Linked DNA regions of Homo sapiens: regions 2 and 3 are each linked to region 1. Evidence: fine-mapped QTL for protein levels in blood plasma. A gene starts in region 1. Each other region holds a variant in brackets. All regions are shown on one strand. Distances are between the middles of the regions.

Region 1 (5,019 bases):
GTTTTCCTAACCTGCGGAGAATTCAAGTGAGCTGTTTCCGCTCCAGGTCGAAGTCTGGTGACACTCATCAACCCTCAGCAGAGAGCATCCAGGGAATTCAGGACCTTGGTTTTATCGCTAAGGGTGTAGCCACTAGTGCTATTAACAGCAGCACTCTGGGTCCTCACAGAGAGGGCCCCCCTCCTTTACCAGGATCTCCCAACTCTGCAGAGAAAAGCTGGGAATAGGGTCCAGGGCTAAGGCTATTCCCCAGATTTAAAGGAAGCTGTACACGATTTTAAAGCCTCACCTTACCTCAGCTAACAGAGAGGCAGGGGGCGGAGGGCGGAGGACCCACCAACCCAGGGGAATTGTAAGGAGACAAAGATGACCCCAAACGCACAAGCGCGCGCGCACTGAAGCCCGGACTGCAAAGCACATTCCATCAACCTTTCACTGTAATCGGCTTACTGTGGGGTTTATCCCCTCACCCCATCCCTCTCCAGAAAGTTTAAGGCTGTTCGCACCGACTTTGAAAGGTCCATTGTTCCCTTCCCCGTAAACGTAATGAAAAGAGAGAGTGGAGAGAAAGAAATCAAGACACCGTTCCCGAGGACCCTTTCTTAAGAAGAGAGGACTGACTCCTGGGGAGTCGGGTCAGTCCCAATCCAGAGATGAAACCGGGAAAGGAGGCGCACGGGGGAAGGGCGGGAGGACGTTTTCCTTTTCGGCAGAAATGCCCAACGCCGGAGCCGGCCAGGCCGCCGGGAGCAGAAAAGGTGGGCGAGACCCGGGTCTGCGTCCCCGCAGTGGCCCCCGAGGGCAGCAAACGAGGTGGAGCGGGGTGGGGGGGCGGGTGACCGAGTCGCTTCTTACCTTCCCCTACCCCGCTTAGCGTCCGTTAACTCAGGTGCCTACACAGCGGTCCAGGGAGACGGAGAGGAGTCCCTGGCGTCCTCGGGTCCAGATCTCCTCTCCATGGCCAGGAAGCCACTCGATTGCCGGCGCCCGCAGCTGCCGCTCGTACTCAACTGGCAGCCGCAGCCTCTGCCTGGAGGTGAAATACTCTCCTCCCGAGAGTGACGCGCACTTCCCTCCGCCTCCGCCTCCTCCTCCTCCTCCTCCTCCTGCCCCGAGCCTCGGGGGCAGGGGCCTCGGCTCGCTCTCTCCCGGAGCCGCCGCTCGGCTTTCTCCGTTCCTTCCCCTCCGGGAGAAAGAGGAGGAGAATCGTGGCCCGGGCGGCGCGGGCCTGAGCGTCCCCGCGACAACAGGGGAGGAGGCGGCGGCGCGGGGCAGAGTGGGGTCCCAGGAGTCGCTCTTGTCCCTGGTCGGCGGGCGCCGCGGCTTGCTAGGGTCGCGCTCAGCCTCCGCCGGCCAGACAAGCAGCCCGGCTCGGCTGGGCCGGGAACTGTGGATTGGGCGGGCGGGCGGGCGGGCGGTGGAGAGCGAGGGAGGCGGAGGGAGAGGAGGAGCCTGCCATCAGAGGAGGCGGTGGCCCCGCCCGGCCCCTCCCGCCGGCCCCGCTCCCCGCGAGCTGCGAAAGCGGAGGCTCAGCGCCACTCGCTGCCGCGCGCTGGAACAGCGCCCGAGCGCACTGCCGGCGGGGCAGAGCCCCAGCCAGCGCCCCCCGCTGCGGCTGCAGGCTCCTACCCTTCCTGGGCGCGCACACCCGCCTGGCCGAACCGGAGCCTGTGCCTCCAGCACCCCCAGATAAGGCTGGTACTGCGCCTGTCACTCCCTGGCTGAGCCTGACACTGCGCCCCCAAAGTCCCCTGGCTGAGCGTGACTGCACCCCATCAACCCTCGGCTGCGTCAGACTTTGAGCCCCATCACCCGTAAAGAGATTTCCACACTCCCACAAATGTTCTGAGCGTCCAGTCACAGCCCCTACCTGGCCAGGCGCGAGCGCCAGGTTCTCAGCGCTGTCAGAAGAACCAGCCTGCTCTGGGACACAGGGCAGCTCTTCTGGTCCCTTGGAGCAACCCCAGCATCCCGCTCGCAGGCCGGAATAAATATACTTAGGTCTTCCCACGCCCCCTACCTGCGCCACTCTGGAGTGGCGGCCGCTTGCAGAGGTGGCGCCGAAAGCCACGCCCCGGCCCACCCCAGTGCCAAAACGCCGCTCTGAGGACACCGGCACCGGCCCTGAAGCAGCCCTGCCGCCGCCACCCTGCCCCCTCGCTGGAGCTGCTCTCACAGCCTTGGCTCTGGGTGAGGGCGCGGCCCGGGCTGGATCACTCAGACGCACGAGGTCCCGAGCTAGTGACAGCTGCAGGACTGCCAAATCCGGGCCGTCGTCATCCTCGATTTAATTGGAATTGGAAGTTTTCCCTCCAGGAAACTCTTTCAGTGAATAATATACAAGGTAGGATAGTTTAGTTTTCAGGGTTGTTCATTCCTCCTCCCTCAACAAACTCAGTCCTGTAACCGCGACACACCCGGCAGTGAAGGGGAATCCCCTATTTCAAGGGTATTAGTTCAGGACTTTGTATAAGAAATTACTGTTTCCAAATCTTGGCTGATGATAAGAATCCCCTGGGGCACTTAGAAAAAATTGGATTGCCAGACGTCGCGCAATCTACTGAATCAGAGGTATCGGGAATATGTAAGTTTGGGAAACAGGGCTAGAATGCATCCTCTAATTAATTAAAGCCTTGGAAAGATGCCTCCAAAACAGCAGCGCGAGCTAGTGCTGAGATCTTACAGAAACTTCACCCAGCTGCCTTTGAGAGCCGCTGTCCCTTCTGGGATAGGCAGGGAGGAAAGGTTTTTAAAATAAGGAACATAGTTTTGAATAACAAGATGGAAGGGACAAAAGACTGTTTTCATGGTCCAAAGGTGTTTTGGATTGTGCTTAATAAAGATAGAAACTGTGTCACCCGTGTGCTAGGCTGAAAAATGTTCCCTCCCCAGAGATAACAGGTTCTAAGTCCTGGAACTTGTGCATATTACCTTACATAGACAGAAGCAGGGCCTTCGCATATGTGATTCAATTAAGGGTCTTCTTGAGTTGGGGAGATTATTCTGGATGATCAAGATGGGTCCTAACTGCAGTCACATGTACTTTTATAAGGGGAAAGGGGGTGGTTAGCACACACAGAGGAGGGCTGGCCACTGTGGAGGCAGAGATTGAAGCGATGCCTCCACAAGGCAAGGAATGCCAGCACAGAGGCAAGGATTCTCCCCTAGAAACTCTGAAGTGAGCAAGATCCTGCTGACACCTTGATTTTGGCCCAGTGAAACTGAGCGCAGTCTCCTGCTTCCAGAAGTGTGAAAGAATAAACTTCAGTTGTAAGCTACACTGAGTTTGGGTGATATGTTGCAGCATAGGAGGCCTGTGCTGGGCCAACTTTATATTACAAATATCCATTTTTTGAATCCTTATTAAGTGCCAGGCACTTTGCTTGGAGTTAGGATATGTTATGGGATATGTTGTCTAATTAAATCCTCCCACTAATTATTATTTCCGTTTTAAAGATGGGACAGTAGGACTTGAAAATTTAAAGGGTCTTCCCAAGGCCACACAGTAAGAACCTCTTGGAATCAAGTCTGCAAACCACTCAAATGTTAAAAATAGCAATTAGGCCAGGCGCGGTGGCTCACGCCTGTAATCCCAGCACTTTGGGAGGCTAAGGAAGGTGGATCACAAGATCAGAAGATAGAGACCATCCTGGCTAACATGGTGAAACCCCATCTCTACTAAAAAAAAACACACAAAAAATTAGCCAGGTGTGGTGGCAGGCGCCTGTAGTCCCAGCTACTCGGGAGGCTGAGGCAGGAGAATGCCGTAAACCCGGGAGGTGGAGCTTGCAGTGAGCCAAGATCGAGCCACTGCACTCCAGCCTGGGCTACAGAGCGAGACTTCATCTCAAAAAAACAAAACAAAACAAAACAAGCAATTAAAAATTTATATACATTAGTCTAATAAAATTTTTGGTTTTAAAAAGGACTTATTTATTTCCACAATCTGTATTTATTGCCCAAACCAAGGGAAATGGATGTTGATTGATAGTGGAGTGGGCTAGTGGGGAACAGGGGTGTAGGAGACCTCTTTACACTTGCGCTCAATTTTGTTGTGAACCTAAAATTGCTCTAAAATATAGTCTGTTAACTAAAAAAAAAAGGGTAGGGGGATTGAATCTGTGTGTGGCCTATCTTTGAGAATTGTATAAACTTTTGTTTTTAGATATTTATCTGGAACATAAAAAATCAAAGGAAAGGCCGGGCACGGTGGCTTAAGCCTGTAATCCCAGCACTTTGGGAGGCCAAGGCAGGCGGATCACCTGAGGTCAGGAGTTCAAGACCAGCCTGGCCAGCATGGTGAAACCCCACCTCTACTAAAAATACAAAAATTAGCCGGGCATGGTGGCACGCACCTGTAGTCCCAGCTACTCGGGAGGCTGAGGCGGGAGAATTGCTTGAACCTGGGAGGCAGACGTTGAAGTGAGCCAAGACCTCATCATTGCACTCCAGACTGGGCAAAAGAGGGAGACTCCGTCTCAAAAAAAAAAAAAATCAAAGGAAACTGATGTGAAAGGAAGCTATGAAGGAAACCAACAAAGTAAGAGGACACAGACTTCTCTGATCAATGGGACTGATGTCACAGATTGAGTTCTCAGGGAAGCAGGCTCTGAGACACTGACAAGATGTTTCACCTGTGGGGGACAGGCAGGAAGCAGCATGGGCAAAGGGAGTAGCTGGGGTGTACCCAATGGCCTTCATTGATCCCACTGGGGGATCTGAGAGATGGCCCATTGGAATTATTGAGCCTAAATGACTGGACCATTAGATACCCTCCTGAATCAGTCATTGGATGTCGTTCATCCTGGGACGTGACATGACCTTGGTCAAGGCGACCCTGCAGCTGAGGCAGTCTCCAAAAGGGCCAGTTGCTGACAGCACCCAGAGCTCGGCAGCAAGTCCTTCTTTGCAAGCAAATCTGGGCAGTGCATCTCCATGTCACTCACTGATATGGTGTGGATCTGTGTCCCCACCCAAATTTCATGCTGAATTGTAATCCCCAGCATTGGAGGTGAGGTC
Region 2 (5,332 bases), 52 kb before region 1:
GGTCTTGCTATGTGGCCCATGCTGGTCTTAAACTCTTGGCCTCAAGTGATCATCCTGTTTTAGCCTCCCAAAATGCTGGGATTATAGTTATGAGCCATCACACTCAGCCTTGAAATTGCTTTTAAACTATAAAAATACCTATACCTACTTATAGCCTAATATATATATACATACATATATCCCTCTTAAGATATATATATATATATATATATACTTTTTTTTTTTTAAAGAGACAGGGTCTCATTCTGTCAGCCAGGCTGGAGCAGCAACCTTGAACTCGAGCTCACAGGATACTGCCATCTCAGCCTCCAGAGTAGCTAAGATTACAGGCATGCCACTATGCCTGGTTAAGGTTAATTTTTTTATTTTTGGTAGAGACAGGGTCTTGCTATGTTGCTCAGGCTGGTCTCAAACTCCTGGCTTTGAGCGATCCTCCTGTCTTGGCCTCCCAAACTGCTGAGATTACAGGTGTGAGCCGGTATGTCCAGCCCTCATATGAATTAATAAATGATTTACAAATTATATATAAACAAACTTTAATTTAGCAGCAATAATTGATTGCTCTAGTCTCAAGCAATAACACTGAGAATGAGGAGAACAAACTTGTCCTGAATATAAGAATTAAATGACAAGCATATTTAACATGACAACTAGAATGACTATTATCTGTAGAAAAACATACAGAACAAAAAGTTTAGTTCTTAAAGAACTAAACTTGCTAAATTAGAGCAGCTTCTAAGAAAGCAAATATTAGTTTTTTAATTTTCTCCCTACTTTTACTCCCTTCCTCTTTTTTCCCCTACTTTTTAAAAACTTTAGTCTAAATCGCAAGTGTTTTCTTCTAAGCAGAAATTATCCTTCTGTGAAATTCCAGCTATATTAACCTAGTACTTTGCTATGAATTCAATTAATCCAGAAAAAAAAAAATGTATTTTTGGCCCTCTAGTGGCATCAGGAAGAGGTTGCTAATTTTTTTTATGTTAAAAAAAATAATAAAACATTCCTGTGTATTATCAGAAAAAAAAATCAAGGGTTATTTTAAAGCTTTAAAATAAGTAAGTATTTTTAAGCAATTACAAACCTGGCAAAGGTCAGTCCTATTCCATTATCTGCAAATCTGTAAAAGAAGAGAGAATGAAGAACATTTTAATTTACCATATTATGTAAAAAGAGGTAATTCTCTCAATATTTAATTATCATGAAATCCAAAAGGTCCCAATATTTACTCTCTACATGACCACACAAAAATTTGATTTCACAATAACTAGGAGCACAGAATCTGCAGTGAGGGCACCCAGTTCAAATCCGGGCTTTGTCAATTATTAGCTGTGTGACTTTTGGCAACCTACTCAACCTCTATCTCTCACTTTTCCCATCTGTAAGTTGAAATGAAAATATAACCTTCCTCATAGGATTCTTGAGAGTATTAAACATACTAAATAATTTCTAGTGTTGGCAAGGTATGGTGGCTCATGCCTGTAATCCCAACACTTTGGGAGGCTGAGGCAGGAGAATCGCTTGAGCCCAGGAAGTCAAGACCAGCATGGGCAACACAGGGACACTCTGTCTCCACAAAAAATTTAAAAGTTAGCAGGGCGTTGTGGCACATGCCTGTGGTCCCAGCTACTCGGGAGGCTAAGGTGAGAGGTTTGCTTGAGCATAGAAAGTTGAGGCTGCAGTGAGCTATGATTGCACCACTGAACTCTAGCCTGGGTGACAGGGCAAGACCCTGTCTCAAAAAATAATAATTTCTAATGTTAGGAACAGTGCCTGGCAAACAGTAAGCAGTGTATCAAAGTATTAGCTATAATTATTATTTTTATAACTATGTTTTAAAAACAACTAGACTGTGGTATATGATTCTGAAGCCATTTCTACAGATTCAACACAGTATCAGTTTTTTGGATGAAAAAACTCAGAAATGATGTGAAATGCCAAGAAGCTAATTTCAGTGCCAGAAAAAAAAATACACACACACATTTTTCTAGACTGTTGAACACTAAATCTTAGCTCAACATGCATGAGACCACTCCTAAAATTATACAAATGGGAAAAAAAGTGAGATACTTACTGCCTCAAGTCATGTTAAGATATAAGTCAACAGATTTACTGAGTTGGAATTATAAAGCTTTTATTTTGAATGGCAATAGAAGAGCATCAGAAAAACTAAGGAGTTTTCAAGAGGAAGGGAAAAGATCCAGGTAGTTTTATTTAGCGCTCTGACATAGACCATGCTTGTTATATAAAGTTAAATTCCCGGTTTCTGTTCAATTTCATCAAAAACTCTCATGTCACCGGATAAGTTCTGTTCCAATAAAAGCACCAGAATGAGACAACTTCAAACATTTGTGGTCTTTTAACTCTAGCATACTTCCTCAGAGCTTGTCCTGTCTTAATAATAATAATATGATTCCAAGAATCATCACTGTGCTTTCATGCTACTGGCTTTAAAAAAAATCTGAAAAATAATACATCAGTGTCATCATATAATAACTTGGTAGAGAATACCCACGCTGAATTTTGAACGATAATATCTCCTCCTCTGACCCAAGCTCCATTATCATTATTTTTAAAAGCAATGAGCCTGTCAATTAGAGCAGCAACACGTGGTTTTTCGG[G/A]GTTTGCATCCTGATGAGGTCGAAATCTAGGGGTTAAAAAAAGAATTTTAAAAAATATAACATAAAAGCCATAGGAATTAGCTAGTTATAAGTTTAAGTGTCAAGAAGCAGAATTTAAATTTGACCAAAACAAATGAAAAATTCTTAAGATACAACTTACTTACATTTTAAACATTCAAAGAAGAAATTACATTTATTTAACCACAAGTTTCCAGAGAACCAACTGCTTTTACATCTTCTTAGTTTGTTTTTGAAAAATCAATTAAAATGGACACTGCAGAATATTATTGCATAAAAATCATTTCCAAAAAAACCCAGATCAGGAAGTATGTCATGTGTGTTTACAAATCCTTAAGGTACATGTTACCAATATAAACTTATTTAATAAATTAATAATATATTTCAACATACATATATGTGAACTAGAGTATAATTTGAGTTGTATGCTGGTTAAATGTTTAGATATAGACAAAACTGGGTTCAATATCATTAAAATGCCTAAATTTAAAATAGACTGTATTTTTTAATATTTTCTTTTTTTGAGACAGAGTCTCACTCTGTCACCCAGGCTGGAGTGCAGTGGCGCAATCTTGGCTCACTGCAACCTCTGCTTCCCGGGTTCAAGCATTTCTCCTGCTTCAGCCTTCTGAGTAGCTGGGATTACAGGCATCCATCGCCACACCCACCTAAGTTTTGTATTTTTAGCAGAGACAAGGTCTCCCCATGTTGGCCAGGCTGGTCTCGAACTCCTGACCTCAGGTGATCCACCCACCTCAGCCTCCCAAAGTGCTGAGATTATAAGTGTGAGCCACCGCACCCAGCCAGACTGTATTTAATTAACATATTTATTATAAATACTGAACTTCACCTTTTCTTTTTCTTCTCTCTAAAACAGTTATAAGGACCTTACTGAAAAGGTAAAAACAGTTGGTGTCAAAAACTGTCCACTATAACAACTCAAATAGTCAAACGGCCCCATGATGCTCAAATACTCAAATACATGATATTCAAATACTCAAATGGCCCCATAAGGCCACCTATTTTTTTTTAATCATTTCTGTCTTAATCTTACAAAACGAACGGAAGAAAAAAAGAAATCACAGCTTTTCAGAAACCAATTCAACAGGTAGAGATTTTCAACCAGTGAGGAAACATCATTTGCCTAATGCTAATACCACAGCTGTTGGCACACAGTAGGTGCTCACTAAATGGATATGATGGCAGAGGCAGCTATCGAGAGAAAATAGCAAGTGCAAATGTCCTTAGGCATGAGTGAGCTTAGCATGTTCAGGAACAGCAAGGAAGTTTGCTGGAGAGAAAGAAGCAAGGGAGACAGAATAGAGAGGAGGGCAAGGGCTAGGTAAAGATCTGGGTCTCCATTGGAAATGCAATGGGAAGTCAATGGAAGCATGGAATCAAGGAAGGGATGTGATCAAATTTCTTTTTTGTTCTTTTAAGAGATCACTGATTGCTATTTGGAGAATGGATTATAGAGAATGGACTCTAAGGAGACCAGTCAGAAGGATCTTCATGTGTTTCAGACAGATGCATGTGTGGTATAAACTGGGGTAGTAGCTGCGAAGATAAAGAGTGTCATATCCATCTTTAGATTATATGGCCCAAGTCCCTTTACCCTAACTAGCTCTGACTTAAGAGGTAAAAAGTTTGACTCTAAGCCAACATCTACTCTCTGGCATTGTAGTTCCTGCCAAACAGCTTTGTAGTCATTACATAATAGTAAGCAGATGGAAGAGTTCCGGAACGGAGACATACTGTTCTAAACGAAAGCAAAAAAAAAAAAAAAAAAAGAGTACTATAAGGCAGCATCTGATTCTCTGCTGTAACCATCTCAACTTCTCTGAACTTCCTATCAATATAAATCAATCACGACACCCCCACAGTGCCCAGGCATGTACAGGGAGAAAAAAAGTAATCAGTAACTGACCACTTGCTTTGATACCCTTTATTTCCATCTTCTTTCCCACTTGGCATATAGACAATAGTTACTTTTTCCCGATTTTCTTATTATCATCATTGAGTTTTCAGCACACTTCTCAACTGTCTCTTAATTGTCCTCTGCTTTAAATGTACTAGGTGGTTCTAATGCCCTTTCACTCTTGTAGATTAAATTTCCTAATTTCAAACCAAGAGCTTTCTTCAGTTAAAATTTTCCATCTTTGGATTCCTATATTTTCACGTCTTGAAGACACAAGGAAAGGCTTATGTGATTAACAGGTTTTTTTGTTTGTTTTTTTGAGATGGAGTCTTGCCTTTTTGCTCAGGCTAGAGCGCAGTGGCATGTTCTCAGCTCACTGCAACCTCCACCTCCAGGGTTCAAGTGATTCTCCTGCCTCAGTCTCCTGAGTAGCTCAGATTACAGATATCTGCCATCATGCCCAGCTAATTTTTTGTATTTTTAGAAGAGATGGGGCTTCACCGTGTTGGCCAGGCTGGTCTTGAACTCCTGATCTCAGGTGATCCACCCGCCTTGGCTTCCCAAAGTGCTGGGATTACAAGCCTGAGCCATCACGCCCGGCCCTGATTAACTGTTCAGTCAGCTTCCTCTTTGATGAACAGATTAAATATCTTCTGGATCTTCTAAGCCTGGTGTTTAATATATGAGCTGGTTTATTACTCATTTATGCTAGTTTTTATCATTTTTACCATGTCTAAATTGCATGAATATATATATGAGCATAGTCTAAACACTAGTT
Region 3 (5,332 bases), 130 kb before region 1:
GTGGGCCCTCAAGCAAGCCACTTCTTTCTTTGCTGTTTTACTTCAGTCTGAATGTCAGTTTGAGTTCTACGGTTTAAGATCTATGTTAAAAATAAGTTAGTTATGATTACAATCATTGCTACTTTTGAGTGAATGCTGAAATTTCCACTAAATCAATCAGAATTTAACCAGTTTCTGGAAAATGTAATGATAGGTAGGTTCATCGATTGTAACAAATGCACCCCGCTGGTGCAGAATGTTGATAGTAGGGAAGACTGTGCATGTGTGAAGGTGAACTTTCTGCTTGATTTTGTTGTGAACCTAAAGCAGCTCTGAAAAAAAATAAGATCTTTTAAAAAATTTTTAAAGAAATTCAGGCTAATTCCTTCATAAGGGCAGGTCTCAGAAGGCAAAAGAAGATCATAAAAAGGTAATTTGTCTTGCCATCTAAAGCGACTGTAGATAAGAAGAGAGAATGTGTGAAGGACAGATGACATGGTAGTATGAGCCTCAAAGAAAGCCTCCTTATTTACTTCCTCTTGCTCAACCTCCCTATCAAACAGCAAGCTACAGAGACAATATCATTACATATGCCAGAAATTGGTTAAATTCTGATTGACTTAGTGGAAATTTCAGCATTCACTCAAAAGTAGCAATGATTGTAATCATAACTAACTTATTTTTAACACAGATCTTAAACTGTAGAATTCAAATTTACATTCAGATTGAAGTATGACACCAAAGAGAGAAGTGACTTGTCTAAGGGTCCACCTCCGACAGCCTGGGAGTGCCGCCGCACTGACTGGCAATGTGCTTACAGATCAGTGTTCATTTACGTTATGCAACAGAAAAGACAGAGGCTTCTAAAACTGAAGGTTCTGCCATAAGTGACTCTTGAGCAAATGAGATATTTTATAGCAGCAATTGGGGCTGCTTTTTTTTTTCAAACCAGGACATATGCTAAATGTGGATAACTGTCCTTTAGGTTAGATTATTTGGTCTGAAGTCCTTTTTCCACCTTGAATTAGCTTCCAAAAATGGAATCTCATATTTTGAAAGTGTTCTTGATAAGTCTTCAGAAATATCCCAAGAGGAGCACTGTAGTCATTTACTTAAATGGCATTTAGAGTAATTAACAGTTTTAGAATTTTTCCTGGCCTCTTTAATTATCCAGTGAGGACTAAATATTTCATCGCTCCTGCATGATTAACGTGCTAGTACAGATGAAAAGGTAAGGGGAGGTCTCTGTAGAACAGGTGCTTAATGCCTTACTTGCAATAAACATCCCAGCCACCATGAGTTTGGACATCTGGTAGAGATTTTGTAGTGATATAACATCTGGAATTTAATTTGCTACATGTAGTAGAAACTCCTTCTATTAAAAAAAAAAAAAAAAAAAAAAAAAAAAACCTCTACTTTATTCAAAGCAATTTGCAGTCTTATAATCCATTCATACCCCTACCCAGCCCTTTAGAAAAAAAATCTCCACAATGCCTATTGTGAAAATCCTTGAAATTTCTTGGCTTTGCAAAATGATAACTTAATGCATTTTAAGCAAGGTTATTCCAATTCCTGCTTCCATGTTTCCATCCATTAATGAGCTCTGGCTTTATAATTAAAGTGACCTAGTGTGATATTTCAGCTTAATTACTCAATGCTGTCATCTATTTCAGGGCCTGTGAATTCAATAGTATGTATGGAGGCCCAGTAAGAAGTGAGGGAGGAGAGCAAGCAGAGAGTTCATTTGCATTTATTGAGTTCATTCGTGTTTATGTGCACAGTGTTCTTCTCCTGTGGAAATGGACTTTTGTGACTGCTCTTTTCACAGTTCAGTAGATTGCTCTCTCCACTGCAAATGGCTGCTAGCAATAAACACCCTTACTTTCATCTGTGAGACCCAATCATTTCCTGGAGATAAAGATGGCTTAGATTAATGTAAAATACATTCCAAGACATTTCTTGGATGGAGTCAGAATATTTAAAGAAAACCTAACAGGCAGACCTTAGATAAGATGGCTCTTTTTTGCTCTCTCTCTCTCTTCTTTTTTTTTTTTTTTTTTTTTTTTTTTTTTTTTTTGCCATCCTCAAATGTGGGGCCAACTGACCTTTGGAAAGCAAGAAGGGGCTATTAAACGATATCAACCCCTTCTTCAGTCTCAGGGTGGCAGAGCTCCCTCTCTAAGAAAGCAGGTTGCCCACCAGATGAAAGGCTGGAAGTTGATATTCAGACCCTGAGTGTGCCTTTCACAGTCCTTTCTAAACTTGGCCTATGGTCAGTTTTGTGTGTGATATCAAGCTG[A/G]TAAGTATTTCTCGGAATGATTTCCTCCTCCATTGAACCAGATCCTGAAAGGAAACGTTGATTCTGGCTCTTCCCTAAATTGCTCATCCTCAGCATTTCCTACCATCGCTATCATTAAACAAAAACTGTCCTCAAATAGTTATGACTGTTACAAACATCTTATGTTCATTTCTTTCAGCGATTTCTCCTTATAATAAATTCTGCTTTTGGATCCAATATATCAAATTCAGCCTGCTAAAGCACTTACTATTTTTCTAATAATTGAAACATGAGTTTATTGCCTGTGAAAAACATGTTCAGCCCAGAAAAACACATTCTAATAGTCGAGACCTTTTGAAATGTAAACATTACATATGGGAAACATTCAATATGGGAACAGTTTAAGTGGGTTTCTCTAAGTCATTACCAGATGATCTTCCAGTAGGCTCTAGCCTCAAGATAAAATGAAACCTAAAGTTGCCTGAGTAGATTTGTGGTGATCAGCTTTAAATATATTAGACTGGGAACATATGTTTTTTAGGCAAAGGAATCTTGACGCAGCAAAACCTTTTGACATGACAGAGGAAGGAAATTGATCTGAGTAGCTGTCTGTAGTATGCCATTTGCTGTGATCGGTCTCTCGTCTAGCCTGATCTCTGGTGTCCCTGTTTGTATTGGAGCCATTTCCTGCCTGATAGTACGTTCCTGTTCGACACACCATGCCTGGGAAAAGGCAGTACCATTTACCCCCACCCAGGCACAAGCTGTAAGACGTCATCAGAACCCTCTGTTTCCGTTACTGGGTGTTGGTCATTCTGCAGGGTTTGCATCTTTCTCTATTTACTTCCTGCCCAGTTAAGGGAAATCAAAAGAAGTGTCCCAAGATTTGGTTTCAAGATGAATTGACAAAGCTCAAAAAAAAAGAAGACAAGGAGGAGGTGAAAACGTAGTTCAAGGTCCAAGATTTATAATCAGAATTTTGAAGCCTATAGAATTTATCTGTTCCTTGCTACTCAAAGTATGGTCCATGGACCAGCAGCACAGGAATCATGTGGAAGCTTATTATAAATACAAAACCCCAGACCCCACCCAAGACCTACTGCATCAAAATCTGCATTTTAACAAGATACTCAATTAATTTGTGTGTGCCCTGAAATTTGAGATATACTGATCCAAGTCAAGCCTTTTATTTACAGATAAGGAAACTGAGTCCCAGGTGAAAGGCTTATGCCAAACCACAAAACTATTCATCCCAGAGGAGCTGGGACTAGAACTTTAATATGAATACTCTGGCCAGTCTTCTTTCTCTGTATTTGAATGGAAGACATACAGCTCATGCCCTGGGGACAAAATTTCTTCAAATTTGTCATCCTCTTCAACTCACAGATTACACCTCTTCAACTCACAGATTTCTCACTCATCAGAGCTTCTTCACTTCTCTCTTCATCCATGTTAGATTCCATTACAATCCTCATCCTGCAAATTTCTGAACTCCCCTTGAACCATCTTCTCATTGTTTCACACACTCTGAGCAGAGCACCTATCATGAGTGAGCTCAACCAACCCCTTTCTCCACACCTGCACCCAAACAGCTGAGCAAGGCTGGAGAAATATCATTGAAACATACAGATTGCTGTCACTTTATATTTACAATCAGCAATCTCAACTAAGCCCTCAACAGTGTCCACTAATCTTATTATATGTCTACAGTAGTATAGTACATTTTCTACCCTTTCATACTTTTTGCAATTTCCTCAAAATTCCCACTACCTATTATCTCTCTCTCTCTCTCTCTCTCTCTCTCTCTCTCTCTCTCTCTCTCAGACAAAATCTCATTTTATTACCCAGGCCAGAGTGCAGTGGTGCTATCACGGCTCACTGCAGCCTTAACCTCCCAGGCTCAAGTGATCCTCCCACCTTAGCCTCCTGAGTAGCTGAGACTACAAGCACACACCATCACTCCTGGCTAATTTGGTTTTTTATATATTTTTTTTAGAGACAGGGCCCCTCTATGTTGCCTGGGCTGGTCTCAAACTCATGAGCTCAAGTGATCCTCTCGCCTTGGCCTACCAAAGTGCTGGGGTTACAGGCGTGAGCCACCACACCCAGCCCACCACCCATTCTCAAGTAATGATTTGTCTCCAATTTCACTGAGACAATACAAGTAATCAGCTATTAAACCTTTCAACTTTCTACCACTGGTTCGAAATCTACATACCCGTCTGCACCTGCCCACACCCATATTCTCCTTTCCCCTCTCTCCCACCTCTTAACACACTAGTTTGCAATGGGCCCTGTGAAACCACCCACTCTCCCCTTCTCAGGAAGGATTCTTGCACTATAGATCATTTTTTCTTTTCTGAATATGCCATATGTACACATCCTTGCTTCTGAATCAATCTCATCAGCATTCAGTTATATCCCAGTACCTCCCTTCTTCAACAAGAAGCAAGGAGGCAAAGCTTTGGAGAGAATTTCCTTAATTTGAATTCTCTCAATTCTCTTCCTCACAGCAGCTTCTTGAAAGAGTGTATTCTCTACACAAATACTGTTTACTTTTCATCTTTTATTCACTATTTCTTTACTTTGTTGATTTTATAAAAGTGGCACATGCTCCTTTTTTAAAAATTTAAGCAATAAAATATTTTTTAATTATGAAAACAGCCCCAGAACTCCCACAACCCAGAGATAATCATCCCTTGTCTCTTTGTAATCTCTCTTTTATATTAATATATGTCAACATGAAGGGGGATAGATAGAGTAAAAAATATAAAATGGGATATATTCTATATGCTGTGTTTTAAAATGTAAGATTTAATTGTATTTTTTCAAATGCATTTTTCCCCAAACCTTATTTATTTTTTATTGTACTTGAATTTAACAACAGAACAAGTTTAGAAAGCAAAATTAAAAGACATTCCTGGCCATTTGCAGTGGTGGTTTATGCCTGTAATCCTAGCGTTTTGGGAGGCCGAGTCAAGCAGATGGTTTGAGCACAGGAGTTTGAGACCAGCATGGGCAACATGTTGAAACCCTGTCCCTACACACACACACACACACACACACAAAAACCCT

Which allele goes with the higher level. Positions count from the first base shown, and alleles are read on the strand shown. Strength reflects both the effect of a copy and how common the allele is.
With allele A in place of G in region 2, the plasma level of the protein whose gene starts at base 1,012 in region 1 is lower (weak association).
As copies of A replace G in region 3, the plasma level of the protein whose gene starts at base 1,012 in region 1 goes up (moderate association).

Evidence for each region. PIP is the chance, under the fine-mapping model, that this variant and not a neighbour inherited with it causes the effect. Protein levels are from antibody-based Olink assays in UK Biobank. Linkage for the fine-mapping came from a reference panel and not from the study's own genotypes, which makes the PIPs less certain.
Region 2: its variant is fine-mapped to the plasma level of the CEMIP2 protein (UK Biobank, PIP 0.98). The variant lies in the coding sequence of CEMIP2. If it changes the protein, the assay may bind it differently, which can mimic a change of level.
Region 3: its variant is fine-mapped to the plasma level of the CEMIP2 protein (UK Biobank, PIP above 0.99).

What each region holds. Positions count from the first base shown.
Region 1 is chr9:71,767,502-71,772,520 of GRCh38, forward strand. It overlaps CEMIP2 (cell migration inducing hyaluronidase 2), which reads right to left and starts at 1,012. Exons shown (of 24, transcript NM_013390.3): 1 at 856-1,012. RefSeq lists enhancers at 670-1,351, 1,352-2,033 and a silencer at 1,107-1,776.
Region 2 is chr9:71,715,436-71,720,767 of GRCh38, forward strand. It overlaps CEMIP2 (cell migration inducing hyaluronidase 2), which reads right to left. Exons shown (of 24, transcript NM_013390.3): 13 at 2,513-2,644; 14 at 1,082-1,117. Among named protein-coding and RNA genes, the nearest start is that of CEMIP2, 50 kb to the right of the region's middle. The variant G/A (reference allele first, on the strand shown) is at 2,619.
Region 3 is chr9:71,635,846-71,641,177 of GRCh38, forward strand. No RefSeq gene overlaps it. Among named protein-coding and RNA genes, the nearest start is that of CEMIP2, 130 kb to the right of the region's middle. The variant A/G (reference allele first, on the strand shown) is at 2,279.